2 separate regions of the Homo sapiens genome follow, and region 1 is linked to region 2. A link means that fine-mapping ties the variant in region 2 to the expression of a gene that starts in the linked region. Tissue or cell type: fibroblasts. Region 2 holds a variant in brackets; the other region holds the start of a gene. All regions are shown on one strand. Distances are between the middles of the regions. Region 1 holds the start of PLS3-AS1 (PLS3 antisense RNA 1). Region 2 overlaps PLS3-AS1 (PLS3 antisense RNA 1).

What was found. PIP is the estimated chance that this variant, and not a neighbour inherited with it, causes the effect.
Region 1: PLS3-AS1 starts here. The variant in region 2 is fine-mapped to the expression of PLS3-AS1 in fibroblasts (GTEx, PIP above 0.99).

What each region holds. Positions count from the first base shown.
Region 1 is chrX:115,552,788-115,569,042 of GRCh38, forward strand. It overlaps PLS3-AS1 (PLS3 antisense RNA 1), which reads right to left and starts at 9,944. Exons shown (of 3, transcript NR_110384.1): 1 at 9,839-9,944; 2 at 9,617-9,743. It overlaps PLS3 (plastin 3), which reads left to right and starts at 8,387. Exons shown (of 16, transcript NM_005032.7): 1 at 8,387-8,473. RefSeq lists enhancers at 9,161-9,936, 13,307-13,871.
Region 2 is chrX:115,512,298-115,528,552 of GRCh38, forward strand. It overlaps PLS3-AS1 (PLS3 antisense RNA 1), which reads right to left. Exons shown (of 3, transcript NR_110384.1): 3 at 5,892-7,414. Among named protein-coding and RNA genes, the nearest start is that of PLS3, 41 kb to the right of the region's middle. The variant A/G (reference allele first, on the strand shown) is at 8,195.

The sequences.
Region 1 (16,255 bases), 40 kb after region 2:
AACTGTGGCACCAATTTAGTCATATGGTGATTCAAACCTTTTTAAAAGTATCAGAGAAGCACTAGATCACCTTTTACTGCCTAGGTTCCGTTTCTGGCTGATTTGATTTGTTTGAAATTTTTTTTTTTTGTAATGTTTAATTTACATCTCTTTTGTAGTAAGTTAAAGCACTATGTTATTCTTTCAGTGACAGTGACAAAAATGGGAACATGCTAACCAAGAAGTGGATGAATTTATCTCCCAAGGCCCTTTTGATTGCATGAGTTTAGTTTCTTCCTTGCAATTACAGATCCTTTCATATCATATCCTCATTAGTATGGTTTTCCTTGTGCTTAATAGCCTAATTCTGTCAATCTCCTTCTCTTTTTGAATAGCAGCTATATAGAGATATGTTAAATCAAACTAAAATTTGGCCTGAGAAAGTCTTTGTACTTGTACACTCGAATTCTTAAGTATAAACTGCAACCTAACTTAGTAGGTAAACAAACTGAAAACCTAATTTAGGAGTAGGCTTCTATAACAATAGCTGAGTCTCAGCCAATCACAGCCGCCATACTTAAACAACCACTCACAGGCAGCCAGCTGTTCAAACCCTGCTCAAATAAGGCAAAGGCCCAGCTGTTTCTGCACTCGCTTCTGTTTTCTGTATGTCATTTTCCTGATTCTGTCCATAAATCTCCTCTGACCATGGGGCAGCCCCAGAATCTCTGAATCTGTTCTGATTCTGGGAGCTGGCTAATTCTCGAATCGTTTTTGTTTTTCTTGCTCAGTTAAATTCTGTTAATTTTAACTTGCCTAAAGTAACAGATCTAATTCGCATACCATATAGATCACCAATTAAAATTGTACAATTCGATAGTTTTAAATTTATTCATATAGTTACGCAACCGCCACTACAATCTATTTTAGAATATTTTCGTTACCCCAAAAAGGAACCCTACTAGCAGTCACTCCTCATTTCCCCCCAATTGCCCATACCCCCAGTCCTAGGCAACCACTAATCTACTTTCTGTCTCTATGGATTTTTCCCTTTTTGTACATTTTATATAAATGGAATCATACAATATGTGGTCTTTTGTTACTGGCCTCTTTTCACTTAGCATAATGTTTTCAAGGTTCATCCACGGTGTCACACTGTCAATCTCTTTTTAAAGTCATTATTTTGCATACTTAGTAAACACAGACCCAAATATTTAACTATAAGCATTCTTGGTAGAATAATCAGTTATAGCATTTAAATATCTGATCATATTCTCTCTCTTTCTCTCTGTCTCTCTCTCTCACACACACACACACACACACATAATGCAGGTAGACACTCATAAATTTACCAAAATTTGGCCTCACATATTCAGAAATCAGTTAAACGCAATAGACTGGACATGACTGTTTCTTTAGAAGTCTGGCTAGTGCTGTGGAGAATTATGGATAACCCTTATAAATTTTAAAATGTGCGCTACAATTTATTCTGCAGGGTTGTTTGTATATGTTTAAAAGACTTTTTTCATAGGAAGCCTCCAATATTTCAAATTACATTCTAATAAAGGTTGAGGTTGAATATTTCACCAAAAAGAATGCTTTATAGCCCAGACACACAAAATGATAACATCAAGTTGTACGTGCTAGTGCACTCACCTACCTTAAATTCTGTGTAAGTTACAGGCATGTTATTAATAATACTTCCTTAAAAGCAAAATGTGATATGTGCCAATTAATTATGTAAATCTCATTGAGGGAAGGATTATTATGGCTCTAACTAAAGCAACTGTCAAAATTACTGTAACCTGGCCAGGCACGGTGGCTCATGCCTGTAATCCCAGCACTTTGGGAGATGGGTGGATCACTTGATATCAGGAGTTTGAGACCAGCCTGGCCAACATGGTGAAACCCAGTCTCTACTAAAATACAAAAATTAGCCGGGTGTGGTGGCGCACCTGTAATCCCATCTACTCAGGAGGCCCGAGAGTCGCTTGCACCCAGGAGTCGGAAGGTTGCAGTGAGCCAAGACTGCATCATTGCACTCCAGTCTGGGTAACAGAGCGAGACTCCGTCTTAAAAAAAATTAAATTAAAAAATTAAAAAAAAAAACCAGACAAACAAAATTACTGTAACTAAAAGCAAGACCTTCTGTAACTTGGCAGTTTAATTAATGTAAGACAAGAAAGATTCACAAGTCTTTTCTTTTATTTTCCTTCCCTCCTTCCCTCTCTCCCTCCCTCTCTCCTTCTCTTTCTCTCTCTCTCTTTCTCTCTCTTTTTTTTTTATTATTATGCTTTAAGTTCTAGTGTACATGCACACAACGTGCAGGTTTGTTACATATCTATACATGTGCCATGTTGGTGTGCTGCTCCCATTAACTCTACATTTACGTTAGGTATATCTCCTAATGCTATCCCTCCCTCCTCCCCCAACCCCAGGACAGGCCCCGGTGTGTGATGTTCCCCTCTCTCTTTTCTTTTCTTTCTTTCCTTTCTTCCTTTTGCTTCCCTCTTTCCCTCCCTCCCTCCCTCCCTCCCTCCCTCCCTTTCTTTCTTCCTTCCTTCCTCCTTTCCTTCCTTCCTTCTTTTCTTTCCTTCTTTCAACAGGGTCTTACTCTGCTTTCCGGGCTGGAGTTCAGTGGTGATATCATAGCTCACTGCAGCCTCAACCTCCCAGCCTCAAGTGATCCTCCAACTTCAGCCTCCCAAGTAGCTGGAACTACAGGCATGTACCACGACCATGTCCAGCTAATTTTTGTATTTTTTGTAGAGACTGGGTTTTGCGATGTTGCCCAGGCTGGTCTCAAATTCCTGGGCTCAAGTGATCTACCCACCTCGGCTTCCGAAAGTGCTGGGATTACAGGCATGAGCCCAGCCCACAAGTCTTTTTAATCACTAAAGTAAGTGTTAAAAAAATATATTTTCTCTTTTAAAAAGATTACGTTAGTGAGATCCCAAGCAATCTTCCTTCCCATTGATGTTATCACTGCACCTTTGTGGTAGGCAAATCCTCAGTTTTTCTTTTGCAGATAAGGAAGTAGAAGCCTGGAAAGAAAGCCCAAACTCAGAAACTTACCTAAAGCGCTCCCATTTTGCTTTCTTATGTTAAATTAAGTTTAGCCTGGTTGGGTGTGGTGGCTCAGGCCTCTAATCCCAGTAGTTTGGGAGGCCCAGGCAGGTGGATCACTTGAGCCCAGGCGTTCAAGTCCAGCCTGGACAACATGGCAAAACCGCGTCTCTACCACAAAAAAAAATTAGTTGGGTGTGGTGGCACGAGCCTGTAGTCCCAGCTGCTTGGGAGACTTGCGGTGTGAGAATCACCTGAGCCTGGGAAATTGAGGCTTCAGTGAGCCATGATCGTGCCACTGCACTCCAACCTGGGTGACAGAGCGAGACCCTGCCAAAAAAAAAAAACAGTATTTCCATACATAGTGAACTGTAACCTAAACAGATGTGTAAACACACTGTAACCCTCACTTGTAAAAATTACTGAGTTTTGGCCAATAAAAGCAGCCAATTGTTCAAATTGAGTTCAAATAAAGCAAATGCCAAGGTGTAACCAATCCAGCTATTGCTGTACCCCACTTCCATTTTCTGTATGTCACTTTTCTTTTTCTGTCCATAAATTCTCTATGAACATGTGGCAGCACCAGAGTCTCTCTGCACCTAGTCTGGTTTGGGGTGGCTGCCCCATCGTTCATTGCTCAATTAAACTATGTTAAATTTAATTTGTCTGAAGTTTTTCTTTTATCACTTCCTAGGAATGAAAATGGTTTTCATTTCTACTTGCCTATATCAAGTCTTACCCATCTTTGTCAAGCCTAGCTCAAGTTCCATTGCACAAAGGATGCCTTCTACAACTGCTTTAGCCCTATTATTCTCATTCTTTTCAGCCTACCTACGGTGCTTCTTATATATTCTATCTTGAATTGTTTTCTCATTATTACAGTTATGTGGACTTTGATCTTGAATTAATATTAGACTATTAATTCGTTGTGTTTTGAGACCATACTTTTTCTATGTTGCTTATAATAGTTATCTGATTGATTAATTAGATATTTAACACCCAGAAAGTCGGGAGAGGGGAGGGTGACACTTTAATTTTGAGCATTTCCAGTGATGATAGTGATCTTTGTTAAATCTACATATTATAAAGTCCATACTGATTAAATATGTCCTAATCCTATTAAAGAGACTTCAATTAATTTTTTGTTTTTTATTTTTTAATTTTCTTATTCTCAGATACTGATAATTTTTTTTTTAACAAGTGAAAATCTGAAATAAGCTTGGACATGTCAGAGTAATTTCTTTATGTGAATGTGCGTGTAAGATAGTTGGCCTGCATTAGCAGGCATTCACATTCATAATAATCTTTAGGTTTGAAAAATATTTGACAATTGCCTATTCACTATTAATATTCATGTCCTATACATGTGTACATTTTGAGTTGGAAACATAAAAACACTCCACTAATAAACAGTGGTAATAACTGTTCAAATCTGTATCCTATGGATCAAAAAAAAATTAATAATTGTCCAGGTCTTCCAAGATTTCCTCTATGCCAAATATTTTAAGTATGAGAGAAACCTTTAAAATCATACTTAATTTTAATAAAAATGTCATCTCACAGCACACTGAATAAAAAGAGGGATTAGGATCAATCCAAGAACCTAAAATATCACAACATGGAATAGAATTATCCATGAATTAAAAAGATGATTTAAAAAAGGATAATTCCTTGAAAATAATCTGATAAAATAAAATACAATTAATTAAAACAGATTAGTACACAATTTTACATTTAGAGACTGAGAAAACAATTAGGTGTGTTAGAAAAATGATTTAGTATTGAACTGATCAAGATTCTTTAAGTTATTCCTGGCTTATATAAAGTTTATGCAGCAAAATCATTTTTTAATAGACTACAGAAAGGAGGTTTTAAAAAAAATGATAAAAATTATCTCAGACGGGGTGAGGAAAAAGAAGAAAAAATAAAATAAAATAAAATAAAATAAAATAAAAAATGGATAAAAAGTTCAAGCCAGTGGTCAGGCACGGTGGCTCACCTCTGTAATCCCAGCACTTTGGGAGGCCAAGGCAGGTGGATCACCTGAGGTCAGGAGTTCGAGAGGAGCCTGGCCAACATGGTGAAACCCCATCTCTACTGAAAAAACAAAAATCGGCCGGGTGTGGTGGCAGGTGCCTATAATACCAGCTACTTGGGAGGCTGAGGCAGGAGAATCGCTTGAACCCGGGAGGCAGAGGTTGCAATGAGCTGAGACTGTGCCGTTGCACTACAGCTGAGGTGACAACAGTGAAACTCTGTCTCAAGGAAAAAAAAAAAAGTTCAAACCAGCAATGACATGTTAAGAATAAAGAATTAAAAATGGATAGAAGAGGAAACTGACAACTTACTCTAGGAAAATTTCAGGGAAAATTTTAGACTATGTACACATAATACATTGTGAGCTAGACTGGGGAGAGTGTTGGGCAGAACAATAGGAAAAAGAGCAAGAAAAAGGGGGATGTGCGTATCAAAAGGAGGAAAGAAAAGTAGTTTGGACAGACAAAAAACCTAAGAGAGATATTGGCGCCTTCTTATGATATCAGCGGAGGACAGGAAGAATAAATGGTTTTCAAAATTTTGTGATATTGACTTTAAGTGATTTATTACAAAGGCATTAGGATCGAAAATTGGAAATGGAAGGAAAGGTAAAAACTCTTAGGTTACTGATTCACAAGGTCTGTGAGAATCCTATATATATTAATAGCTTTTTGTTGCTGTTGTTTAACAAGAATAGACATAAAATAACCATTGGTTCAGCAAACATTTACTGAACTCCTATGTGTCAGGCACTATGCAAGTCACTGTCAAAATAAATTAAAGCCTATAAGCAGGTGGAGGGAACCCTGACAAACATCTGTGCAGGCTTTTTGATACAGATAAGAAAACAATCAACTTTGGGTTACTTCGTGAATGATCCTCTATGAGGTAAATTGATGGCATGAAAAATTATAAAGAAATGCTGTTTAAGAGCTTTGAGCCTGAGGATCCTTTCTTCCAGCAAAATGCTAAATTTGAAAAGATCCTTTAGATTCTGGGCAACACAAAGGTAGCTTAGTTACATCAAACTGGCTGGGTATCTTAATAGTATTCATTAAAATGGAGTTCTACCTGGATTATATAGTGGAGCTTGTTAAACAGGAATCTCAGCTAGCATCCAAATAGGTGCTTCTGTGTTTAGGGTGTGTTTTATCTGTTGGAAAGTTACTGAGGCAATGAGAACTAATGCCATCAGCTAGGTACACTGCAGCTTTGAAACTATGGACTATTGCATTTCAATTAAAATGACATTTCTTGACTGAATTCTGACATCCTCAGTGATAGTGGTGAATGAAGACTTTTATCAAAGTATAGATTCTATTAAGCTTTTAAAAAATTTTATTAATTTTTTTTGTAGAGATGAGGTCTTGCTATGTTGTCCAGGCTGGTCTTGAACTCCTGGCCTCATGCAATCCTCCCACTGCACAGCCTCCCAAAGTGCTGGATTACAGGCGTGAGCTACCCTACTCGGACCAATGTAAGCTTTTTTGAATTAAAAACAGGAACTGTAAATAGCATATACGTAGGATTCTTAATATTTTTACTTTAAATTCTAGAATTTGAAAAATAAACTAAAATTGAATACAACGTAATTGAGACAAATATATCTGCACTGGAAAATTTAGCTTACAGAGTCCCTTCATGCTATTGCTCAGTCTGTAATTTTAAGTTTAAGAGCAGGTGGAAGCTCTTCAGCGGTGACCGACAGACACCATAAAAGGTAGAAAACTGAAAAAGCCTATTTCCTGTATCTAAAAATTTTTTGTAAAGAATTCCAGAAGTCACACCAAACCTTTGGCCAATTACTGAATGCTAGAAATCTCATTTGGGAGCTTACTGTAAATGTGTGTGGCAATGCACTGGCTCCATGTTCAATCCAACGCCAACATGTTGAAATCAGTATTTTTGTGCTGGCCCAAACCTGAACCAGTAGAAAATCTCCCATAACAGAAATTCAATGTTTGTGAAAGCATGATTGCCCTCCCATTTCTTTTTCACCTTCCTGTGCCTTTCATAAGTTCTTCCAGTTGGTTAATCATTAATTAATATTTAACAAGGCTTTTTCCTCGTGCCAAGTCCTCTGCTAGTCTAGCCTTTAGGCAATATATGAACTCCCCAAGTTCTTCCCTTTTAAGAAGCCTTGGCACTCACTACGGATTAATTTCTCTAAGGAAATTCATAATGGCAGATGAAATAGGGGTTCCTTTTCAAGAACATTCCATTTTAAAGCCTCTCAGCATTTTTTCCTGGTACATGTAAAATGCGACTTAATTGAACTAATTTTAAATGTTGACAGAACTTTCCAAGCACACATTTCCTCAACAAAATGGTTACGACTGGAACAGGAAAGGGCTTAGACTTTTTCTTCTACAGCTATCCCACAAGTCAGTCTCTTGACCTGACCCTGCAAAATCCCTCAAACTCTGGCTCTCTGAGTTGATTTTGGATATACGATGAACCATAGGTTTGGAATGCAGATAACCTCCACGTGTATTAATGAAAGAGGTCAGCTATGACGTGGAAGCCATCTCCTGGGCAGAGAAGGAGAAGAAATGGCAGTCTGGGGAGTAGTAACATGTCTCCAAATTTTCTCTGGTGAAAGGAGACTGATGAGAATTGATACCCATTTCCGGTCAAAAGAGTGGAACCAATGTACTTCCAACCACCTCCTCTCAACCCCTCTCCGCATGGACAAACATACCAGACAGGTGATGTGGGCTAACAATTTACTTGGCATGAGGCCAAAGGCTTGAGGGCCCTGCCCTGCCCATATTCTTCTCCCTTGACTTCTTAAGGAAAGGAATGATTGCTGATGTTTCCCTCTGCACCCTTTGGCACCTGGACTGATTGTTGCAGATGTAATTAGGAATGTTCCCCAACATGCCGTTATTCTTCTCACGATTCTGGGAGAAACTGTACCCCTCCCCCATAGACTTATATAGGTGGCATTCAAATTCTTGTTCCCAACTTTTTCATCTTTTTATTAATCCCACAAGATTGTGTGAATGTGTACTCCGAGCCAGGCACGTTGGACTTCTAACTTCCTCTTAGCCCAAGTAGGAAGGGGAGACTCAGGCGCTGGGGACCATTCTCCTCTCCCTGCAGCAGAGTTGCAGTCCCTATCCCTCCTGGGTGCCCATCCCCGTGCCTATTTTCCTGGATCCCCACCCAGTTGATGTGACAGGCTCGTGGCCCAATCCCCTTCCTGGTTCCCAGGCCGACTGCTAGCACCACCCGAGCCAATGGCGGCGGCCGAGGGGCGGAGGGGGCTGGCAGGAGGGGAGGGAGCGCTGGCTTTAGAGCCACAGCTGCAAAGATTCCGAGGTGCAGAAGTTGTCTGAGTGGGTTGGTCGGCGGCAGTCGGGCCAGACCCAGGACTCTGCGACTTTACGTAAGTGCTTTGTAGGCGCCGGCGGGCACTAGGGGAGCGGGTTTCCTGGGCGTGGGCAGGAGTGGGTCCCGGGGAGAGCATCTCGGTTAAGCTCAGCAGGAACGTGCGGCGCACCGTGGGGCGGGGGTTGGGGGAGAGGGAGGTCGGAGAAATTTCAGTTGGAGCCCTCGGGCGCCCGGGCGATCGGTCGCAACCGAAATGGGTGTGAGTGACGGGGAGTTTCCCTACTAGCATCCGCCGCAGACACGTTTTCTGCACTTCACTGTATTAAGTGGTGTTTTCTTACTAGTTGCTCTTAACTTGTTGCCAGTCTTGGGCTGGAGTCCTAGACGCCAGCCCTTGCCCTGATTCCCCTCCGCGGCTGCGGCCCCGAAGTGGAAAGGGAGCGCACAACTTCCCTCTGTCGTCCTTCTCCAGCTACTGCCATCCCCTCTTCCCTCCCGCCCGGACTCAGGAAATCCCGGAGCCAGCAGCCTGCTACTCCTCCAGCCCCCACACGCCCGCCTCGGGTGACCTGGCTGGCTTAAGCCGACCCTGGGGCTCTGGAGAGGGGGGGCCGTGGCCGAGGGAAGGCACGAGGTTTGGGTTGCCTGCCTTCTGCCTGCTTCCCTCCCTTGTCCTTAGCGAGGGCGTCGCGAACGCACCTAGTCTCCCTATGAGTAAGCACTTTTTTTCCTTTCAGTAGGAGAACATCTCTGGGCTAGTAGGACAGTACCTTTCCGTTCTCCCCTGGCCCCACACCCCCTGTCCTTTTTTCAGCTCCTTTGACTTTGCGGCCCCGGGCGCGCGGTCGGGGCGGCGGCAGTCCCGGACCTCTCCCGACTCTTGGAGAGGGAGAGGCAAAGGGGCGACGGGAGGGAGGTAATAGTCTACCCCCCCGCCCTTTCCCCGCACAGCTGCACTTGCCTGTGTTTACTTTTCTCCACCCGCAGTACTTAAGCGCTGTAATGAGAGGCCCGGGGACGCCGACCACCCCCGCCCTGGCTTCTCGCCAGTCCCAAAGTTGCTGCCGCCGTCGCTGCTCCAGTGTGCTGGCGGTTCCGACCGCCGGGCTCCGGGACGTAAGATGATCCCAGCCCGGGAGGTGGAGTGGGGGTTAATGGCATCTGACTCTAGCCTTATGCGATGCTCCTTGCCTCTCACCTGAGCTGCACGATATCCCCAGTGGTGCAGAAGGTTGAACTTTTGCAGAAGGTTGAGCTTGGAGCTAAGTGGGTTGGAGAGCCTCGCCATTTAGCGTCAGACAGACGGGATGCTGGGGGCGCCCGGCCTGTTAAGAGGGATTGGGAGGAGGGAAGGGAGCCTGGCTAACAGTAGGTAGAAAATGTAGGGAAAAGTAAAAACCATTGAGGGGCAAGCACTTACTCCACTTTGCTGGATGTCACAATGGACTGGGGAGCCTAAACTTGATCCTCGAGATGCAGTTCATGGTGAATTCCAACTAAGTGGCTGGAGCCCCACACATACCAGTTGGAATCACGTGCCCCAAGTCTCTGATGGTCACATGACGTCTTTTTACTTTAAAGCTGGAATGTAATGGTTGAGGCCCATATTCCAAAAACCACCTCTACGTTTGAAAAAAAAAAAGGTGGGGAGGAGTGTGAACTAGCTTCTAATCAAGGAAGTCTACTAGGATTTTGGATGAGGGGACCAGAAAGGGAATTTGGTGCTCAGCTTTTATCCAAAACAAAAACAGGAGCTGTTTTTAAAATAAGGGATTGAAATATATGTGAGCTGGGACATGTATCTCCTCTCTTCTTCAATCTCATGGTTTTTCTAAATTTAAAAAACATCTTACTAATTATTTTCTAGGGAAGTCATCCTATTACTCATGCCTCATTTTGTCCCTGAATACTAGATTTGAAGCTAAATCCCACAAGATAGTGTTAAAAAGTAAGGCTCTGTTCATCTTCCTTGGTCTGGCCTATATTCTAATTGAACTGTTCCCTATTTTAGGCAACTACTTAAAGGTAGTAAATAACCTCTTGACTAAAATTAACCACCAGTTATTTGTGGTTTTCAATTAACTGGATTAGAAATCATGCACAAAAACAGTGGATAGTAAATTTGATACATCGAGTTGGTTGGGTTTTTGCCTGTCAGTGGTTTGGTAGAATAATGAGAGGACACTGAAACAACTTTCCCATATTGACCTATACCCGCCCAAGTGGCCCAAGTTAAGGTTGCTTCTGGGAAAACGTGGCAATTTGGCTATTCAGATTATATATTACAGAGTATAGAAGAGAGGCAGAGGAGCCTCTGAGGTCAGGAGTTTAAAAGCTTTGCTTATCTGAAAAAAAAAGAAAAAACGGACCTGGTTGATGCATATTCAGTCTTGAAAACAACTAGGGCAGAAGATATTTAAGAGATTCTGACTTTGTATTCTTTTGCCAAAAACCCTTTGTCTCCTGCAGCAGCCTCTGAATGACCGGAGCACTCCAGTTTCTTGCTGTTCATCCGTTTCTGAGCCTGAAAACTAGAACAACCTTAAAGCACATTGTTCTGACCCCAAGGCTAGCCTTGTGGCACAGATGAGCTGGAAATGGATTTAAGGTGCACCTGAGTTACTAGAGTTAACTACACTGGTAGATAGACCCCTCTAGTGGAAGTGAGGTGATAATATAATTTTAGATCGAAATAATAAATGTTTAACCTCAAAAAAAGGAAGTTATTACCACTCAACTAGGTTACAGTGGTAGGGGGATAAGTTCTTTTTTAAGTATTGTGAAATCATGTCTAAACAGAATCATCGCTAGGCTCTAGTCCACAGCTTTTCATTGTCTTGGGATGCCTACTCATTGAACACCACCCCCAATATTGCTGACTTTTTTTGGTGGTATGATCTAATGAGCCCAAATTTTTATTGAAATTAGGGGGCTGGGAGTCAAATTCTTGATTTTTACTGTTAGATCTAGCAGATAGCAACCCCTTTACCTGAGGTGGGGAGCTATTAATAAATAAATAACACTTTGCCTTGACTTAATACAGACGATCAACATTGAAGTCCAAAGTCTCTAGTCTGATGTAACCATTTAGATTCAATTGATAAAAATGACTAGGCTTATGGCATTTTGGGTAGAAGGATTAATTATAACTAGTGAGTAATAATTTGGGTGAGATTAAGCCTCTTCCACAAGTGGTTACACGCACATTAGACTTTGACTGTGACTGTTTATACTGGCAGAATGTCAGTATCTAGGGCACTATCAGAAACCCAATGAGATTTTTCTCCCAGGAGAACAGAATTCTGTTACTGAAAATAAAAGGGCAGCTTGGCCATGGTGCTTGAGCACCAAAGTGGTTCTTTTTGGTGACACTGAGAGGGTACAAGAAGAAAGTCCATTTGCCATTATCCCATATTCTGTTTTAGGCATTATTTCTACTTGGATTTTCATGAAATGTACTGACAGTGTTCTTAGCACATATGATAAATTCATGAGTTTGCTGTTGTGTTTGATCTAGCATAATCTATGTGGAATGTATAAGCTGAACTGTTTCTTTTTTGATGTTTGGTACAGATTATGAAAGTAGCTGGTATAAAATAAAATTTGAAAATGAATATCTCTCAATACATGACAACAATGGGGTATCTGTTTTTAGAATCATGTTGTCTTTGGTCATATGGCAATTTTTCTTTTGGTGAAGAGTGATCCAGAAGGCAAAATTTTTGATCTGTGAAAATAATACAACTCATTTAGAAGAAGTCAGCTGGGTCATGTTTTGAGTCTGTATTATTTTAGACAGTGATATACCATATAATGTATATTCAGTGTGTTGGAGGTTTCAAAGCTTTTTGGATACATTACAATGTTGGAAGATTTTTATATACCAGTGGTCATGACTAGCTGATTTTAGTTATGAGAGCGCTTTGGTTAAAGTTATGGAAACAGTCTAATCGTGAAATGTCAGTCTTAGAAGATCTGATCATACTTGGGCCAATTTATTTTAGTTACGGAGGTGAGACAATTTCAGAAGATTCACGATAAATTTAATAATACCAAATTTTGCCTTAGTCTTGACACTTGGAAGATAAATATTAGTGAGTATAAACTGTTTTAGGGATGAAGAAGTATTGTTAGTATACAAAAATGAAAATACTAATTATTTTAGCATGGGTCTTTTAGTCCTTTGCAGTCTGGACAGATAGATTATCTTAAGTAAATCATTGAACTTGCCCTCAGAGGAATTAGATTCTAGATAGTGCTCTGCCATTGACTCATAATTTGACCTTCGGAAAGTCATTTAAAATTATTATATTAATAACTAATTGAGTACATACATGTGCCAGACACCATTCATGCTTTTGTTTATAAAAAGAGAGGATTGCTCAAGCTTTTTGGTTTGCTGGGTTTTATTTTTTCAAATATTCATAATCTGGCTTATTTCACTTATCAGTTGACTTTTCAAACTTTGATGCAATTGCATTGATCCAAGCTAAATACTTTGTTGGCAAATTGATGACTATTCAGGAAAGTGATCACCAGTGGGTTATTCCATGACTAATGTTAGTTCTTTAAAATAAAGAGGTGCCATTTATTTAATTCCTTGACAGGGATTTTTGGTGCATTAAGCCTACTGATTTTATAATATGAGAAACCTTACATTTTCTTAAAAGTTTAGAAACGTATTTGATAATAAGGAGGTAGTGTTGTTTATTGGAAAAGCATTGAGCATAGAATTTAGGGTCTTTTAGTCCTTTGCAGTCTGGACAGATAGATGATCTTAAGTAACTCATTGAAATTTTCTGTGGTCATATCTGGGTTTCACTTTATTTTTAAGCCATGTGATTCCAATCTACATATTTCACAGGCATGGTAAAAGGATAAGTGAGAAACGTGAAGCCTTGGCTTTTAAGCAGACAGGTGCTATATAAATTCAAAGTACTGCAGCAGTGTATCATAGAAACACTAAAGCTTTAACAAGAGTTTACAGAAATGGCAGGGTTCTCATCACGTAAGTCTTGCCACATTTTTCTTTGTCTGTAAAAGTTCTGCACCCATCCAATTTTTACAAGCAAAGGAAAAATAAAGCCAGACATATTATAATGAAAAATAAGAGACTAGGTTGATAACAATAGAATAAAAACCTACATGTGATACTTTCTTCTTCTTCTTTTGTTTTGTTCTGTTTTGTTTTGTTTTAAAGACGGAGTCTTGCTTTGTCGCCCAGGCTGGAGTGGTGCAGCGGCCGTGATCTCGGCTCACTGCAAGCTCCTCCTCCCGGGTTCAGGCCATTCTCCTGCCTCAGCCTCCCGAGTAGCTGGGACTACAGGCGCCCGCCACTGTGCCCAGCTAGTTTTTTTGTATTTTTAGTAGAGACGGGGTTTCACCGTGGTCTCGATCTCCTGACCTCGTGATCCGCCCGCCTCGGCCTCCCAAAGTGCTGGGATTACAGGCGTGAGCCACCGCGCCCGGCCCGTTTTGTTTTGTTTTGTTTTGAGATGGAGTCTCGCTCTGTCGCCCAGGCTGGAATGCAATGGCGTGATCTCAGCCCACTGCAACCTCTGCCTCCGGGTTCAAGTGATTCTCGTGCCTCAGCCTCCTGAGTAGCTGGGATTACAGGCGCGTACCACCACGCCTGGCTAATTTTTGTATTTTTAGTAGAAATGGGGTTTCACCATGTTGGTCAGGCTGGTCTAGAATTCCTGACCTTGTGATCCGCCCGCCTTGGCCTCCCAGAGTGCTGGGATTACAGGCATGAGCCACCGCGCCCAGCCCATGTGATACTTTCTTCTATTTCTTACCTCAAATATTGTGCAAGGTAGCCCGTTAAAGCCATTAATTGGGTGGTGTTTTTCCCCTTTTTAACTAACTACTGAGTAGAATTTTGGTCTTCAGTGGTAATTGTTACAGAGTCCATTGGCTTACCATACCTCATTTTTAGTTTTGTGATTGCCCATAATGGGAGGTTTCGTGTAAAAAACCTCATAAAAAATCAAGTTTTTCCTCCTCATAATTGCAGTCTAAAGGAGGACAACACGCAGGTCTGGGAAACTGCATAGTGGAAGAGATAATCTATACATTTAAGTAGCATGCCATGAATAACACAAAAAATGGCCTGGCACGGTGGCTCACATCTGTCATCCCAACACTTTGGGAGGCCGAGGTGGGTGGATCACTTCAGGCCAGGAGACCAGCCTAGCCAACATGGTGAAACCCCGTCTCTACTAAAATACAAAAACTTAGCCAAGCACGGTGGCACGGGCTTGTAGTCCCAGCTACCCAAGAGGCTGAGGTGGGAGGATTGCTTGAGCCTGGGAGGCGGAGGTTACAGTGAGCCGAGATTGCGCCATTGCACTCCAAGCCTGGGCTACCGAGTGAGACCCCATCTCAAAAGAAAAACAGAAAAACAAACAAACAAACAAAAAAAAACAGAAAATGTGGGAAGTTAAGTTGAAAAATAAACACCTTCAAAGCTATTAACTTGGATTTTCTTTTCTTTTCTTCTTCTTTTTTTTTTTTTTTTTTTTGAGTCAGGTTCTCACTCTGTCGCCCATTCATACTCTGTCCAGTTCATTGAAAATACAAGTCTGATTCCCTTGAGTTGTGATATTCATACACACACGAGTATATATACACTTATGTGTGCATATGTATATTATATAAAGTTTTACGTGATATATAATATAAGTTTTTACTTTCTGTAAAATAAAATTTGTTAGGGCCGTATAATAGTTTTGAATATTCATATTATTGTGTTCCACATTATAAGCTCTAATTACATCGTGTTGCACTCAGATTGACATTCTGCTGTTGACACTGAAAATAACGCTTTCATTCATAGATGAATGTAATTTTCAAGCTTTTTTTCTATATTTCTTAACTTGCTTGAATGTTCCCATTTTTGCCATTTCTTGTTGTTCATTTTAACATTTTGGGGCTTGTGTTTCAGATCAGGAAGAATCACCATTATAGGGTGCAAAGAGTTTGCTCAGAGGTGAAAATGATACGAAATTGTCCCTAGAGCACATCCTATTGCTATACTATTCAACATGTATGAATTAATCTACTGGGAAAGTGTCTTGTGTAGTGTGTACTTTAAAGATGTTTTCAATCACTTTGCTTTGGATTAGAAAAATTCAAGGTAACTATAATTTTAAATGCTCATATTTTTATGTTTATTTTATATGTAGGAAGAGAAATTTTTAAAAATTGGAATAACACTATATCCCATTCTTTTCATTTATTACATTATAAACATGTTTCCAAGTGATCAAATATTTTTAAAAATGTTTAAAATCACTGCAGTATATTTTATATAATGGCTGTTTCATAATTTATTTCACTAATTCCAAGTTGTTGAACATTTGTTTCCATATCTTACAGATAATGCTTCAGTAAGCATTCTTGATCGAACATCATTTTGCACTCTATCATTTTTTAGAAGTCACCAAGAATGTTTTAAAGATGAATTCCTTTGATAGTCCCTGAAATTTAAACATTGGCTTAAACAAAAAGATAGCCTTGATTTCAGTGGCATTTAAAAAAAGAAGGCTGGGCATGGTGGCTCAGGCCTGTAATCCCAATACTTTGGAAGGCCAAGGCAGGCAGATCACTTGAGGTCAGGAGTTCAAGACCAGCCTGGCCAACATGGCAAAACTCCGTCTCTACTAAAAATACAAAAAAACTAGCTGAGCATGGTGGCGCACGCCTGTAATCCCAGCTACTTGGGAGGCTAAGGCAGGAGAATCGCTTGAACCCAGGAGGTGAAGGTTGCAGTGAGCCAAGATTGCACCACTGCACTCCAGCCCGGGCAACAGAGCACGACTCCGTTTCAAAAAAA
Region 2 (16,255 bases):
CTCCATATAGTACATATTTCACAGGGTTATCATGAGAGCTGAATAAGGTAACCAATGTCAACCGATTAACAGAGTGCTTGGTTCATAAGTGCCCCTACATAACAGGTGCTATGATGCTGCTTATTTCATTCTTCTCATAATTAAGTGATTGAATCAAATTTTAAAATACCATTTCTTAAAGTCCCCCAAAGAGCACCATGATGTCCAAGTACTCTGACACTTGAGCAAGTTTGAGAATGACTTCCCAAATATAGCCCACTCTGTGCCTAAGTCCAAGACATTACAACTTAAAAGAAAATTGGACAAAAAATGGACCTTTGCATAAGCAAAAAACATGAAGAAGAGCCTCCGGGGAGGAAGACCATGCAAGGAAAGATACTGCTGAAGGAAAAATCCACATCCAAATGTCAGAGGGCTACAAAGTACAGGATCTTCAGGGAGAGTAAATATCACTGCCTTACACCTGGGATTCCATGACCATGCTAACCTTGCAGAAAAGAGAAAATCACAAGTCAGTGTTTTTCTGGGTCCATCCCCTTGCACTCTCTAGGAGTTTCACTCTCCATTCCCTACCCACACATTCCCCTAATCTCCTAGGTTCCCCCTCTCCCAGAAAAAAAAAAAAAAAACTTCTGGAAAATCAAAAAGGTGTTTCACAAGTTCTCTGGGGTCTGGCACTCATGTCTCCCATTTCTCTTCTTTTTATTCTAGAACTTCCCTAGGGGTGCATATTGTCATGGTCAACAGCCATCAAAACCAAGACCTCTACAGGTGCCTGCCAGAGGTACAACTGGTGGCCTGTAGTGTCCACGCATAGGTCGTCAGTGCCCAATAAGGAAGGTGCTGTTTTTCTTTCTTTCTTTTTAACTTTTAAGTTCAGGGGTACATGTGCAGGTTTGTTACATAGGTAAACTTGTGTCATGGGGGTTTGTTGTACAGATTATTTCATCACCTAGGTATTAAGCCTAGTACCCATTAGTTATTTTTCCTGATCCTCTCCCTCCTCTCACCCTCTAACCTTCAAAAGTCTGCAGCGTGTGTTGTTCCCCTCTGTGTGTTCATGTGTTCTCATCATTTAGCTCCCACTTATAAGTGAGAACATGTGGTATTTGGTTTTCTGTTGGTGTTATCTTTCAATACTGGAGATAGTGAGGCAGGAAAGCAGGGTCTGGAGGCAGGGAACATAAGGTTGATTCACACTTCAGCTATGACAGAAAATGTCCTCTCCATAGTAAATGATAACTTTACTTCATCCTCTTCATTTACATAGGGTGTACAACAAGTAGAGGGTATTTAAACTCAAAAAAACTCTGTAACAGTGCCCTTGAGCCCCTATGCTGGGGTCCACTCCCACACTGTGGAGTGTACTTTCATTTTCAATAAATCCCATGATTCCTTCCTTCCTTGCTTTGTGCGTTTTGTCCAATTCTTTGTTCAAGAGCCCAAGAACCTGGACACCCTCCACCAGTGACAATAGCAGTGGTACAATCAATCTCCTAAGGTGCTGCCAAAGGTGTTGGCACTGACGTTGCTGAAATGTTAGAATGAAGTTCTTTTTTTTTTTTTTTTTTTTTTTTTTTAAGACGGAGCCTCGCTCTGTTGCCCAGGCTGGAGTGCAGTGGGGTGATCTTCGCTCACGGCAACCTCCGCCTCCCAGGTTCAAGCCATTCTCCTGCCTCAGCCTCCTAAGTAGCTGGGATTACGGGTGCGTGCCACCACTCCCGGCTAATTTTTGTATTTTTAGTAGAGACGGGGGTTTCACCATGTTGGCCAGGCTGGTCTCCAACTCCTGACCTCGTGATCAGCTCACCTCAGCCCCCCAAAGTGCTGGGATTACAGGCGTGAGCCATCGCGCCCAGCTAGAATGAAGTTCTTTTCATCTTCACTTGTTTTATTAGTGATTCTTTGCTGTAAGATTCAGGCTTGGATTCAAGGGGGGCTGGGCCAGATGATACCTGTGGCATGCACTCTGGTGGGTTAATAATGTAGCCAAGCTCCTTACACAGGCTCAACTGCCTTTGAGTCAAGTTATACGACACTCTTAAGTTTAAACAATTTATTTCCCAGGAGGCTTCTTGGTGTTTATGCCTTATCAAACATCCTGATTGGCCCAGACAGTTGTGAATGATTTTTAGAGTAAAAATGACTTAATTTCATGATGGGGTTCTCTGTTTTGCTAGGATGGTCAGAAGACAGGAAAAGGGACAAGAAATTGAAGTTCACTGGACAGTTCAGTTTGTCAGGCATTTGCTGAGCACCCACTGTGTGCTTCACAACAATCTTGCAAAGCTGCCATTATTATACTTGTTTTGCTGGTAAAGAAACTGGTGCTCAATTGGTTAAAGTAATGAGATCAACATCATACAGACAGTAAATGACACAGTTAAAATTTGAAACCAGGTTTTCCCACTTCAATTGTCTCTACCTGGGGTAATATTCTGTGCTTTTATCACAAGGAATAGTTATATTTGGCGCTAGGGGATTAGGGTTAAAGGTAAATGATTAGGGTTAAATGTAAATGTAAATGATTCTTCAGCTAGGATTGGTATGCATTTGCATGTTTATTTTTCTGGGGAGAAGACCCATAGCTTTTATCATATCAAATATAATTAGGGCCGGGCGCGATGGCTCACACTTGTAATCCCAGCACTTTGGGAGGCCAAGGCGAGCGGATGACCTGAGGTCAGGAGTTTGAGACCAACCTGGCCAAAATGGCGAAACCCCATCTCTACTAAAAAAAAAAAAAAAAAATACAAAAACTAGCCTGGCATGGTGGTGGGCGCCTGTAATCCCAGCTATTTGGGAGGCTGAGGCAGGAGAATCGCTTGAACCTGGGAGGTGGAGTTTGCAGTGAGCCGAGATGGCGCCCCTGCACTCCAGCCTGGGCAACAGAACAAGACTCCGTCTCAAAAAAAAAAAAAAAATAGGAATCACTGATATATTTACTGTCAGATGGACTTAGATTTACATTCCACCTCAGACATTGATCACCTGTGTGATTTTGGCCAGTTAGTTAAGCTCTTGGAACCTCATTTTTCTCATTAGTAAAATGGTGTACATGAGACCATCTCCTAGAATGTCATTCCCTAATTGTGTGAACCTACTTGTTATTTTAGATCTCTCAGAGGTTTTTCCTAGCTTCTGTTCTCTCTCTAGCCCCTTAAATCAGTTTATCAGGCATTTGTGACTACTGCTTATATTCTCAGACTGCATTTGTGCCTGGACCTTCTCACCAGCAGGTGGATGGTTGAAGAAACTGTGGTACATTCATACAAGGAAATACTACCTAGTGACAAAAAGGAACTATTTATCCATGTGACTTTGTACATAGATCTCAAGAGCCTTAGGCTGAGTGAAAAAAAAAAAAAAAGTCACTCAAAAAGCTACATAATGGCCAGGCACAGTGCCTCACGCCTGTAATCCCAGCACTTTGGGAGGCAGAGGTAGGCCCATCGCTTGAGCCCAGGAGCTCAAGGCCAGCCTGGACAGCATAACAAAACCCCGTTTCTACAAAAAATATAAAAATTAGCTGGGTGTGGTGGTGCATGCCTATAGTTCCAGCTACTCAGGAGGCAGAGGTGGGAGGATCACCGAAGCCCAGGAGGTCGAGACTGGTGAGCCAAGCTATGATCATGCACTGTACTCCAGCCTGGGTGACAGAGTGAGACCTTATCTCAAAAAAAAAAAAAAAAAAAAAAAAAGCTAAAGACTATATGATTCTATTTATATGACATTCCGGAAAAAACGAAACTACAGGGACAGAAATCAGATCGGATGTTACCAAAGGCTGGAATAGAGGCATTGATACAAAGTGTGTGAAATGCAGAATTTTTGACCCTATGACCTTTACTACTGTTGTTATGCCCATGAATACATTATGTTACATGGCAAAATAGACTTTGGACATGTAATTAAAGTTACTAATCAGTTGACCTTAAAATAGCAATATCATCCTGGATTATCCAGGTGGGCCCAGTGGAATCACATGACCTTTTAAAAGCAGAAGTCAGAGAGGTCTGAAGTACAAGAAGGATTCAACTCACTGCTGACTTGAAGGTGGAGAAGGCCAAGTGTCCAGAAAATGGGGACCTCAGTCCTAGAGCTGCAGGGAACAGAATCTGGCCAACAGCCTGAACGAGCTTCTAAGCAGATTTTACTCAGAGCCTCCAGAAAGGAACTCAGCCTATGCAACACTTTGATTTCAGTTTTGCGAGATCCTTAGCAGAGAGCCCCACCATACTGTCCTAACTTCTGACATACGGGAGTGTGCTACAGTAAAATGGGTGCTGCTTTCAACCACTAAGTTTGTGGTAACTTATTATTCCAGTAACAGAAAACTAACACAAAAGGGCATGAAGGAATTTTTTTGATAGTAGAAATACTCTGTATCTTTATTATGATGATGGTTATACAACTGAATAAGTTCGTTAAAATTCTTTGACCCATACATTTTAAAAGACTAAAGTTTACTTTATGCAAATCATACCTCAATAACCCTAAAAAAGGTAAAACTCATCAAATTGCACTTTAAATGGGTAAATGGGTAAATCTTATTGTTTGTAAACTATACTACAAATAAAATGGATTTAAAAAGAAACAACAGGCCAGTACAGTGGCTCATGCTTGTAACCTCAGCAATTTGGGAGGCCTAGGTGGGAGAATAACTTTTTTTTTTTTTTTGAGACTGAGTCTCACTCTATCACCCAGGCTGGAGTCCAGTGATGGAATCTTGGCTCACTGCAACCTCTGCCTCCTGGGTTCAAGCAATTCTTGAGCCTCAGCCTCCCGAGTAGCTGGGATTACAGGCGTGCACCACCACACCGGCTAATTTTTGTATTTTTGGTAGAGACGGATTTCACCATGGTGGCCAGGCTAGTCTCGAACTCCTGACCTCAGGTGACTCAACCGCCAAGGCTTCCCAAAGTGCTGGGATTACAGGTGTGAGCCACCATGCCTGGCCTGTTGGAGGATTACTTAAAGCCAGGAGTTGACAAGAATGAGCAACAAAGTGAGACCCCCATATCTACTAAAAAAATAAAAAAAATTAGCTGGGCATAGTGGTGCCTGTCATCCCAGTTACTTAGGGGGCTGAGGCAGGAGGATCACTTAAGCCCAGGAGTTTGAGTCTGCAGTGAGCCATGATTGTGTCACTGAACTCCAGCCTAGGCAACAGAGTGAGACCCTGTACATACATACATACATACATACATACATACGAATTAAAAGAAACAACAAAATTCTAGTTCAAGAGTGATCTATTAGAGTTTTCCCTTGCTCCCGTTTTCCCCCAGTAGAGATAATCAACCATGCATTTTTTCCTACTATGACTGTACTTTATTATTTACTTCTATTTTTCTCCCAAGACTATATTGTTATTTTGAATTATATGTGTGTTGCTAGTAGACTCCCTGAGCAGCGGGACCATGTCTTCATCTCTGGATCATGAGTGCCTAAAATACAGTAGGTGCTATATCATTTTTATTTGATTTGCATGATTGTACATGAATATATCTAAAACTTTCTAAATGTGTCTTTCAAAATTTTTCTGGCTGGATCTCTTCCCAGTGGTAATAAATTGTATATATTTATTACTGCATAAAGCATTGCTATTTTAAAATTCAAAACCACTTCCTTAAACGTCAAGGGAATCACAACCAATTTTTAGTATTCTTGAATATAGTGAAATTGCTCATGTGTACATCACCTCTTACACTTCATTTGTAGATTTTTATGGCATATCCCTTTTAGATCATTTTTTTTCTAAAAAGGAATCCAGCTTGAAATGCTATTTCAACAATACAGATGGTCCCTGACTTATGATTGTTTGACACAGGATTTTTCAACTGTACGATGGTGCAAAAGAGATACACAGACAATAGAAACTGTACTTTGAGTACCCATACAACCATTTTATCTTTCATTTTCAATACAGTATTCAATAAATTACATGAGATATTAAACAGTTTATGATAAAATAGGGTTTGTGTTACATCAGCCCAAATATGCTGATGTAAGTGTTCTGGGCACATTTAAGGTTGGCTAGGCCAAGCTAGGATATTCAGTAAGTTAGGTGTATTACATGAATTTTCAACTCACAATATTTTTAACTTATGACAGGTTTATCAGGATGTAACCCCATCAAAAGTCGAGGAGCATCTGTTTATATTTCCATTTATATCATAAATATTTACACTTTTATTTGTCAATTATACCTTAATAAAGCTGGGGGGAAATATATATGTCCATCACAGGTAGGATTGCCAAGTAAAATACATTATGCCCCATTAAATTTGAATTTCAGATAAACAACAAACAATTTTTAGTATAAGTGTGTTCTGTGCAATATTTAACTGAGCATCCTTTGTTGGGAGGGTGGCTGACTCTGGCAATCCTAGTCGAATGGTACACATGACCAAGTTTAAGGCTAAATCAGGAAGAGATTGAAGCATCCTTCTTTAGATTGTGGTTAAGAGTGGTGAAAATAAGTTTTGATTAAACAGTAAAATGACACCAAGTAGAAACGGGTGTTATTTATTAAGCAAGACATTGTTTTGTGTAGCAGATGCCTCATGAAAACACTCTAGCTCAGCTAGATGCTTTTTGTTAGAGACCTGGAAAAGTAGGATTGTTGCCTTGTATTACAAGGGCATTTTAAAGTTGTGTTCTATAAATTATAAAACTTGTCTGGGCCCACATTCTACCTCAACATCTGCCTACCCCAGGCTTCCTACCTCTTCAGGACGGGTGAGATGCCTCTAGTCCTTAGATAGCAAATTCTTGTCACACCTGGTGCCATTCTCCCAACCAAGGCAAATCATCCCAGCTTACAGTACAATTTATCTACTGAGCCTGAAAACAGCCTCAGAGTCTTTCTTAGCACTGTGTGTTTTTTTAAAACAGCTATTATTAATTCATTAGAATTTGCACCAAAAATTAAACCTGTTTAGCATCACTAGTCTCACAGCTGCCATGTTATTCACTGCACAAGGGCACCTGAATTAGAGAATAAAATGGGGCAATACCCAACTCATGCTCTGTACATCATGGTCTGGGGCTGCATTCCAAGAGTCTTTTTCTAAATCACATAAGGCACAGACTAGTATCAGCTCTGTCTGTTCTAGGGGAATAAGCAGGGGGTTACTTGGTATAATTGGTGAAATTGATAAGGGAGAGAATATTCCGAAGAAAGAGAGATGAGTTGAAGCATCTATAGTTGAAGAATGGCTTGAACCTTGGCTTCTGAGCATGCTCAACAGTACATGCCCTTCAGTTGGAGAAACTTCAATATAACGTTAAACCAGCAGGGCATGGTGGCTCACGTCTGTAATCCCAGCACTTTGGGAGGCCAAAGCAGGTGGATTGCTTGAGGCCAGGAGTTCTACATCAGCCTGGGCAACATGACGAAACCCCATCTCTACAAAAGAATATAAAAAATTACTCGGTCATTGTGGTGCATGCCTGTCATCCCAGCTACCCCGGAGGCTGTGGTGGGAAAATCACCTGAACCCGGGAAGTTGAAGCTGCAATGAGTCATGATTGTGCCACTGCACTGCAGCCTGGGCGACAGAGTGAGACCTAATCTCCAAATATATATATATATATATATATACACACACACACACACACACACGCACACACACACACATATGTGTGTGTGCGTGTGTGTGTGTATAAAACATTAGACCAAAAGCAGTTTTCTATTTAATGATTCATTTTTGTTGTTTGTTTAGTTATGTTCTGTATTAAAGAAATACATACATGACATCCTGATTTTCCACAATAGAGAAATTAAGTGATAAATGATTCATAGATCTATAGTTCCCCAGGTGATTCTGATGTACACAACTTAGTTGAGGCCCAGGTAGCCTAAAGAGTATGACAATTGGCCTGGGGGGAGAATCAAACTAGAACCCGTATGAACATAAATAAGACTGTTCACCTGCCCCTTACCTGTAGGTAAGGGCATCCTGACATTCACCACTCTGTAATGAGAAGCTCCTGGTAAATGGGGATGTGTGGGACTGAAGAAATTGTCAGAAATTCAAGAAATTGAGTTAGAGAAAATAGAATAGCCAAACTACAGCCCAAGGATGAGGCCACTGGAGATAAAACTGTTTAGGACATATGCTCTGGCAAGATACCAGTAACAAAATCTGGCAGCCACACAGCTCTCTGATGACGCTTACCTTTAGCC[A/G]GTTTTAATATGAAGAGTTATCATTTTATATATAGCTTATATCCCGCCTTGCTTTCCGTCCCCTTCACCGTTTCAGTTGCTCGTCTCAGGGTCTTCTCCAACTCTATTATTCCTGTCTTGTACATAGACCAGAACTACAAAAAAGAGCCCGGATGCAGACACCTCAAGGATTTACAAAAAAAAAAAAAAAAAATAGAATGACTGCTTACTGGTTTTTCCTCCAATTTTTCTTAATGATGTTCAACATTTTCCTGATTATTTTGACCGAAACAATACTTGGGCAGCTGTCTTCAGGAGAGAGTCTATAAAGGACCCTTGGCACCCTTTCCAGGGATGACAACTCAGAACTTGTCATTTTAACATATGCTTGAAGAAATCAAGAAGTAAGGAGATTTTAGGGGTGGAAATATAGATGTGATTTGAAAAGCCAATATGAATAGAGATAAGTTGTTGGGATGGGCTTGTATGGTAGGAAAAAAAAAAGAGTAGAGGCCAGGCGCAATGGCTCACACCTGTAATCCCAGCACTTTGGGAGTCTGATGCAGGGGGATTTCTTGAGCCCAGGAGTTCAAGACAAGCCTGGACAACATAATAAAACCCCCTCTAAAACTAGCTGGGCATGGTGGCACTTGCCTGTAGTCCGACATATTTAGTAGGCTGAGGCAGGAGGATCGCTTGAGACAAAGAAATTTGATGTTATGGTGAGCTATGGTTGTGCCATTGCACTCCAGCCTGGGCAACAGAAAGAGACCCTGTCTCAAAAAAAAAAAAAAAAAAAAGCAATGGGTAAAGATGTATAACTGCCTGGGGAGTAATTCTGTCTAGCTAGAATATAATGTGAATAAAGTCATGATGGATGCTGGGGTTATAAATGTGGGTTGGGACCAATGTACTCATGTACTTTCTCTTCAAAGATAATTTGTGAAAATGATAATTTAGACCAATCTCAAGGCTAATTTTAAGAAGATTCTGCCATTAACAGTTAAAATATCTCTAAAATGGCATAATAGAATCTGTTCTATTTTCCTCACCAGAATACTGTGATTACCAGATGGCACAAGGGGTATGGAAGACCTTGGGTAATTGACAAGTTGTCAATTACAATTACAGAGTGGTCATATTGCCTGCAAAATTCCCCATCAGCTCCTCCCACTCATCTCTAAGCTCTTACATTACATGTCCTGCAATGCTATGTGGACTGTAATCAAAACTTTTTGGTTTAAAAACTTTCAAAGGTGGTTTTTTTTTTTTAAATTTAAAGTTCTTTTGTCTGAGGCTCCCACTTTTGTATCTACTTTCTACTTATCCCAAACTCTAGTATAGCATGATTTTCTGTTATGGAAATCAAGCAGGTTCTCTCCATTAAGTTCTGTGCTTCTGTGTTTTCATAATCCTAATGTTTACTCTCCATTTAACCAGATTACTCAATGTATCATGAGACTATCTGGAGTCTGTAGTTTCCAGAAGCCTCTCTGGAGGATTTGTCTTGCATTTATTCTGAAGAATGCTCTGCCAGAAATAAAAAGTTGACAGACAGCAGATTTTTAAGAGTATTGGAAGGCATAAAAATATAATGGCTAAGAGAGGAGTTGGATTGCTTCAATCTATAATCCTGGCTTTATCTCTTTCCTCTCTATAATACAGGGTCGTTTCAACTGTTGAGTTAGGTAACATATGGAAACTGCTTAGCACCAGGCATGATGTATACGGAGTGCTTAATTAGTGTTACCTATTATCATCATTGTCAACACTATATAAATAACAAAGTTGACATTTGATTTGTAAGTATTCTATATGAATATGTATGCAAAAGCATTTCAATCTAATAAGCAACCACAAGGCTAATCTTCATCTCATATGTGTAGTCAAAGTACATAGATTCATGGTTTATGCCTCAGATAATTGAAAACCCACCACTTTCATTTAGGTGGCTGTTTGGAGAAAATATGTCACATTTGCATAATGCTTTATGATTAAAAAGAACCTTTTAAGCATATTTGCACTTAAGCCTTATAATAAATTATTAGAAAGATGACTGGACTTTTCCAATACTACACAATAATTGTGCAATAAAACTGATATTAGAACCTAAGTCTTGATCCTTGTATCATGAAAGGCTTCTTTATTATTTGTTAAGATCCCCTGGACCATCTTGACATCACAAAACAAGTATATGTTAGAAAAGTTTTTATTTTAAGAAAAATATCCAAAAGTTTGCAGCCAGACACAGTGACTCACGTCTATAATCCCAGCACTTTGGGACGTTGAGATGGGAGGATTCATTGAGCCTAGGAGTTCAAGACCAGCCTAGGCAACACGGTGGAAACCCCATCACTATGAAAAAAGAAAAACATTTTAATTAAATAAAATAAAAATAAATAAAAGTTTGTATGGCAAATTTATAAAGAAATTTATAAGACCCAAGGTGACCAACGGAATAGGCATAATAGAATGCCCATTCCCCTCAAAGCCTGAAAAAAATGTAGGACTTTCTTTATGACTGCCCAGATTGTAAATTTCATCATGTTTCAGGCTCTCAGACCTCAATGGTCAGAGATACTCAAGGGGAATTTTATTTAAGACTATTAAATGTAAAAAGTAGCTACAGATGGAGTACTTCTATAATTCTACTTCATCCTTGGTGAAAGATATTTTCATTCCATGCTGAGAACTGTTCTTTTTCCATCACTCAGATTACTTTATGAGCCATTTGCTTTGCCAGTAACTACTTTTTTTCCTCTTTTAATGGAATGAAATGGACAAGGTTAAGGCTCATTATCAAATTGGAATGCAGAAGCAACATTTACCATACTTCAAATTTGCCACTGTAGAAACTGTAAAAAATATATGTATATTCTTTGTATAACATTATGTATGTTAATAATATCAAAAAATAATAAAATAAAATCCCCAGAATTTTCTGCTTTCTCAAATAAATTCATTAAGTGTAAAGAACTGGTTTTTAAGATCTTCTGATTTAGACATTCAAAGTATTGAAAGGGTAGATTCCAGATTGATAACCATAAGGGTCTTTAAAGTGGCATTTTTAGGCAGGGCGTGGTGGCTCATGCCTGTAATCCCAGCATGTTGGGAGGACAAGGCGGGTGGATCTCCTAAGCTCAGGAGTTTGAGACCAACCTGGGCAACATGGAGAAACCCCGTTTCTACCAAAAATACAAAATGAGCAACATGGAGAAGTCCCATTTCTACCAAAAATACAAAAAAAAAAAAAATAGCCTGCCATGGTCACGTGCCTGTGGTCCCAGCTACTCAAGAGGCTGAGGTGGGACAATCGCTTGAGCAACAGGGAATATATATATATATATTCTTTTTTACAGTTTCCGCAGTGGCAAATTTGAAACACACACACACACACACACACACACACACACACACACACACATAAGTTTGTTACCCACTGAAAAACTCTGAAGAGACCTTGATGCATTCAAAGCTATGAAGTTTAGTGAAATATTTAAACTCGCTAAAAACAAGCAATTGAAGCAAGATAGATCATGTTTCTTAATATTTTAATTGTCCAAAAGGTTTTGAATTCTCAGAATGTAGAGTTATTCTATCTGTACATGAATACAAAATCAGTTACCAGTCATTACATAATAAATATATTTTATTTTTATTTCAATCCTCCTTCTTCTGTAACAAACTAAATATCAACAAATTTTAGGCTGGGCATGGTGGCTCACATCTGTAATCCCAGCACTTTGGGAGGCTGAGGCAGGCGGATCACCTGAGGTCAGGAGTTCAAGACCAGCCTGGCCAACACGGTAAAACCCCATCTCTACTGAAAATACAAAAATTATCCAGGCTTGGTGGTGGGTGCCTGTGGTCTCAGCTACTCAGGAGGCTGAGGTACAAGAATCACTTGAACCCGGGAGGTGGAGGTTGTAGTGAGCCAAGATCATGCCACTGCACCCCAGTCTGGGTGAGAGAGGGAGACTCTGTCTCAGAAAAAAGAAAAGAAAAGAAAACAAAACAAAACAAAACAAATTTTATTTCTGGATATGAGTAGGTGAATAGATCACACTGATAGAGAGAATGGGGAAAAAGGAATGATAACTGTGTAGCACAGCATCTATTCTAAGGTTCATATTCTATATGGAACAGGGCATACTACATCACTTTTTGTTATTTTCAAAAAATATAAAGGTACTCAAAGTTCAAGATTAATGATTTTATACTATAACACCTCAATGCACTAAAGAAACAATTACAGAGAAATCAATATAACATTATTGGTAAGACATGCACACTGACAACTTGGCTATCTGCTTGATTGAGTATAAAAGTGTGGTGTATGTGCCTTCAAAACAGGGCCTAGATGTTTAGCATAAGAATAAAACTGCAGATACTTTTTTAAAATGCTACTTTATTTATTTATTTATTGAGATGGAATCTCACTCTGTCACCCAGGCTGGAGTGCAGTGGTGCAATCTCAACTCACTGTAACCTCTGCCTCCCCAGCTCAAGCGATCCTTCCACCTCAGCCTCTTGAGTAGCTGGGACCACAGGCATGCAACCATGCCTGGCTTTTTTTTGTTGTTGCTGTTGTTGTTTTTGTATTTTTGGCAGAAACGAGGTTTCTCCATGCTGCCCAGGCTGGTCTCAAACTCCCGAGTTTAGGAGATCCACCCGCCTTGGCCTCCCAACATGCTGGGATTACAGGCATGAGCCACCACGCCCTGCCTAAAAATGCCACTTTAAAGACCCTTATGGTTATCAATCTGGAATCTACCCTTTCAATACTTTGAATGTCTAAATCAGAAGATCTTAAAAACTAGTTCTTTCTTTACACTTAATGAGCTTATTTGGGAAAGCAGAAAATTCTGGGGATTTTATTTTATTATTTTTTGATATTATTAACATACATTGTAGATAGATCTACAATGCCAATTTATAACTAAGGCAATTATCTGAGTCAGACCAAAATATCCACTCTTACCTGCATTTATGAAGTGTTTTGCTCTGCTCTTCAATGCTCAAGTTGCAGCACTGAAGTGGTGTCTCAAGTGATAATAAAATTGATGTTAAACTCTCTATATATCTTAAATAATAAGTCTTAGAAGCGGAACAGGAGTGATCCTCTGTTAACCACCTACTTTACTAAATGAGGAAACTCAAGCCGAGAGAGGTGAAGTGGCTTGCTGCATATCGTGAAACTAAATGTTGGCACAGCTGGAGCACAACTAGGTCTCCAGTTTTACGGTCTAGTGTACTTCTGACTTCAAGAGACTGACTCAGGCCGGGCGTGATGGTTCATGCCTGTAATCCCAGCACTTTGGGAGGCTGATGTAGGAGAATCACTTGAGCCCAGGAGTTCGAGTTCAGCCTGGGCAACATGGCAACACCCTGTCTTTATCAAAAAAAAAAAAAAAAAAAAAAAAGAAAGAAAGAAAGAAAAAATAAGAGACTGCCACAAGTTTTAATTGGTTGCGCCCAAAAGTATAAGATAAATTAATCAGGCAGTACATCTCCATGCATACCAACCATACGGGAGTTCATTCTCAGCAAGGCTGAAAAAAAAAAAGTATATAAAGATTTCTGTTTAATGGAACTTTCTTGCTTTTAAAATGATAACAGAAGTGGCTGGGCGTGGTGGCTCATGCCTGGAATCCCAGCACTTTCAGAGGCCGAGGTGGGTGGATCACTTGAAGCCAGGAGTTCAAGACCAGCCTGGACAACATGGTGAAACTCCGTCTCTACTAAAAATACAAAAATTAGCTGGGTGTGGTGGGGTACGCCTGTAGTCCCAGTTACTCAGGAGGCTGAGACAAGAGAGTCGCTTGAACCCAGGAGGCAGAGGTTGCAGTAAGCCAAGATAGCACCACTGCACTCCAGACTGGACGACAGACTTATTATATCTGGTAGATTTTTTTGTAGATTCTTCTCTGTAGAAGATCATGTTATGTGTGAATAAGGAGAGCCTTAACTGCTTTCCTTCCAGTCTGGATGCCTTTTATTTCTTGCCTTATTACACTGAGTAGAACTTCTAGTATGATGTCGAATAGAATTGGTGAGAGCAAACCTCCTCATCTTGTTCCTGATCTTAAGAGCAACCCTTTCACTTTTTTCCCCTTTATTGATACATAATATTTGACATATTTATGGGGAAATTGTGAGTGCTTCTTACATGCATAAAATGTGTAATGATCAAGTCAGGGTACGTGAGGTATCCATCACCTTGAGTATTTATCATTTCTATGAGTTGGTAACATTTCATGTCCTCTTTTCTATCGAAAAGCATTCACTTTTTTAAACCATTAATGTGATATAGGCTACAAAGATTTCATGGACAACTTTGGCCAAATTGAGAAAGTTTCTTTCAATTTCTAGTATCCTGAGATACTAGACATGACATCTTTTAAAACTTTTGTAGGTTTTTGAAGGTTAAACAAAAGATGAAATAATCATCATAAACAGAAGGACATCAATGTTTTTCCATTAAAAAGATTCCTGAGAGGGCAGATGTTATATATGAAAGAGCCTAAATAGAGTTCTTTTTATGAGACAGGGTCTTCCTCTGTTGCCCAAGGTGAAGGGCAATGGTGCAATCACTGCTCACCACAACCTTGACCTGCTGGGCTCAAGTGATCCTCCCACCTTAGCCTCCCACCTTGCCTCCCAAGTAGCTGACACCACAGGCGTGCATCATCATGCCTTTTATTTTATTTCATTTTTGTAGAAACAAAGTCTTAATATATTGCCTAGGCTTGTCTTGAACTCCTGGCCTCAAGCAATCCTCCTGCTTTAGCCTCACAAAGTCCTGGGATTATAGGTGTGAGCCACCGCACCCGGCCTAAATAGAGTTCTTATGCATTTCTAGAGACAGTTCAGGCACTTATTGTTGCATGTCCTTCTGCAAATGACTTCAAAAGAAGAGGGTGTAAAAATCATATTTTTAATAAAAAAGTTGAAGAAAGTACAAGAAATGTTTCAAAAGCAATAATTTTTAAAATATAATGATTTTAAAAGTGATTTCAACATCACATATGTCTGCCATAATGGAATTATAACCTTAATAGGAAGATGTCTCAAGTTTTGTAAAAAGGTTTTCTTATGACACAATAAAGCAAATACTAAAAATCAGTAATATTTCCTACAAGTTTTGGTTGCATACCTGGGTGTGGTGGCATGTGTCTGTAGTCTCAGCTATGCTGGAGGCTGAGGTGGGAGGATCACTTGAGCCCAGGAATTTGAGGCTGCAGTAAGCTATGATCATGCCACTGCACTCCAGCCTGGGCAACAGAGCAAGACCATGTCTGGAAAAAAAAAGTGTGAAGAAGATGTATTTTTTTTGTTGTTGAAACGAGGTCTCACTCTGTTGCCCAGGCCAGTCTTGAATTCCTGGTCTCAAGCGATCCTCCCACCTCAGCCTCCCAAAGTGCTGGGATTACAGGCATGAGCCATGATGCCCAGCCTGAATTATGAACTTTTCGTGCATTTGTGAACCCTCTGATGGACGCATGAATTGAATGTTCATTGAAATGATCAGAACAGGTAAAGCATCTGATTTATATATTTTGGGAAGTGAGAGTCTTTAATTACAGGAAAAGTCCACATGAGGTCTACATACTTATTTTTCAAATTGATGTGACTCAGTGCCATAGACTCCCTCCCTCCCCCACCCATTTATACTGAGCCTTCATATTCAGAACAGCAGAAAATTGAGGCACTTAAAGTTGAAGCACTTATCTGAATGATTAAACCCAGATCAACAAGTGAAGAGCAATTGTAACAGCACAAAAAGAGGACCAAAAAGGGGCTTTTTGTTCACTTTTTTTTTTTTTGCAGAGGGGTTCAGGGCTTTAAAATAATTCATTTATGAACTGAATGGTCTTCTTCACAGAAGATCTTTCCATTCATTCAAAAAAATCTCATATGCTGAGGAGACATGCAGGAATGGGAAAAGATGAAAACCCAGGGAATAAAAAGCAAACCTGCCTCCTAAAAATTAACCAGTCAGCTGGAATATTACATAATCAAGCATGGTTTTCTAAGGTTAAGGTTGCTAGATATGGCATGAGGCATACTTATACTAAAAAA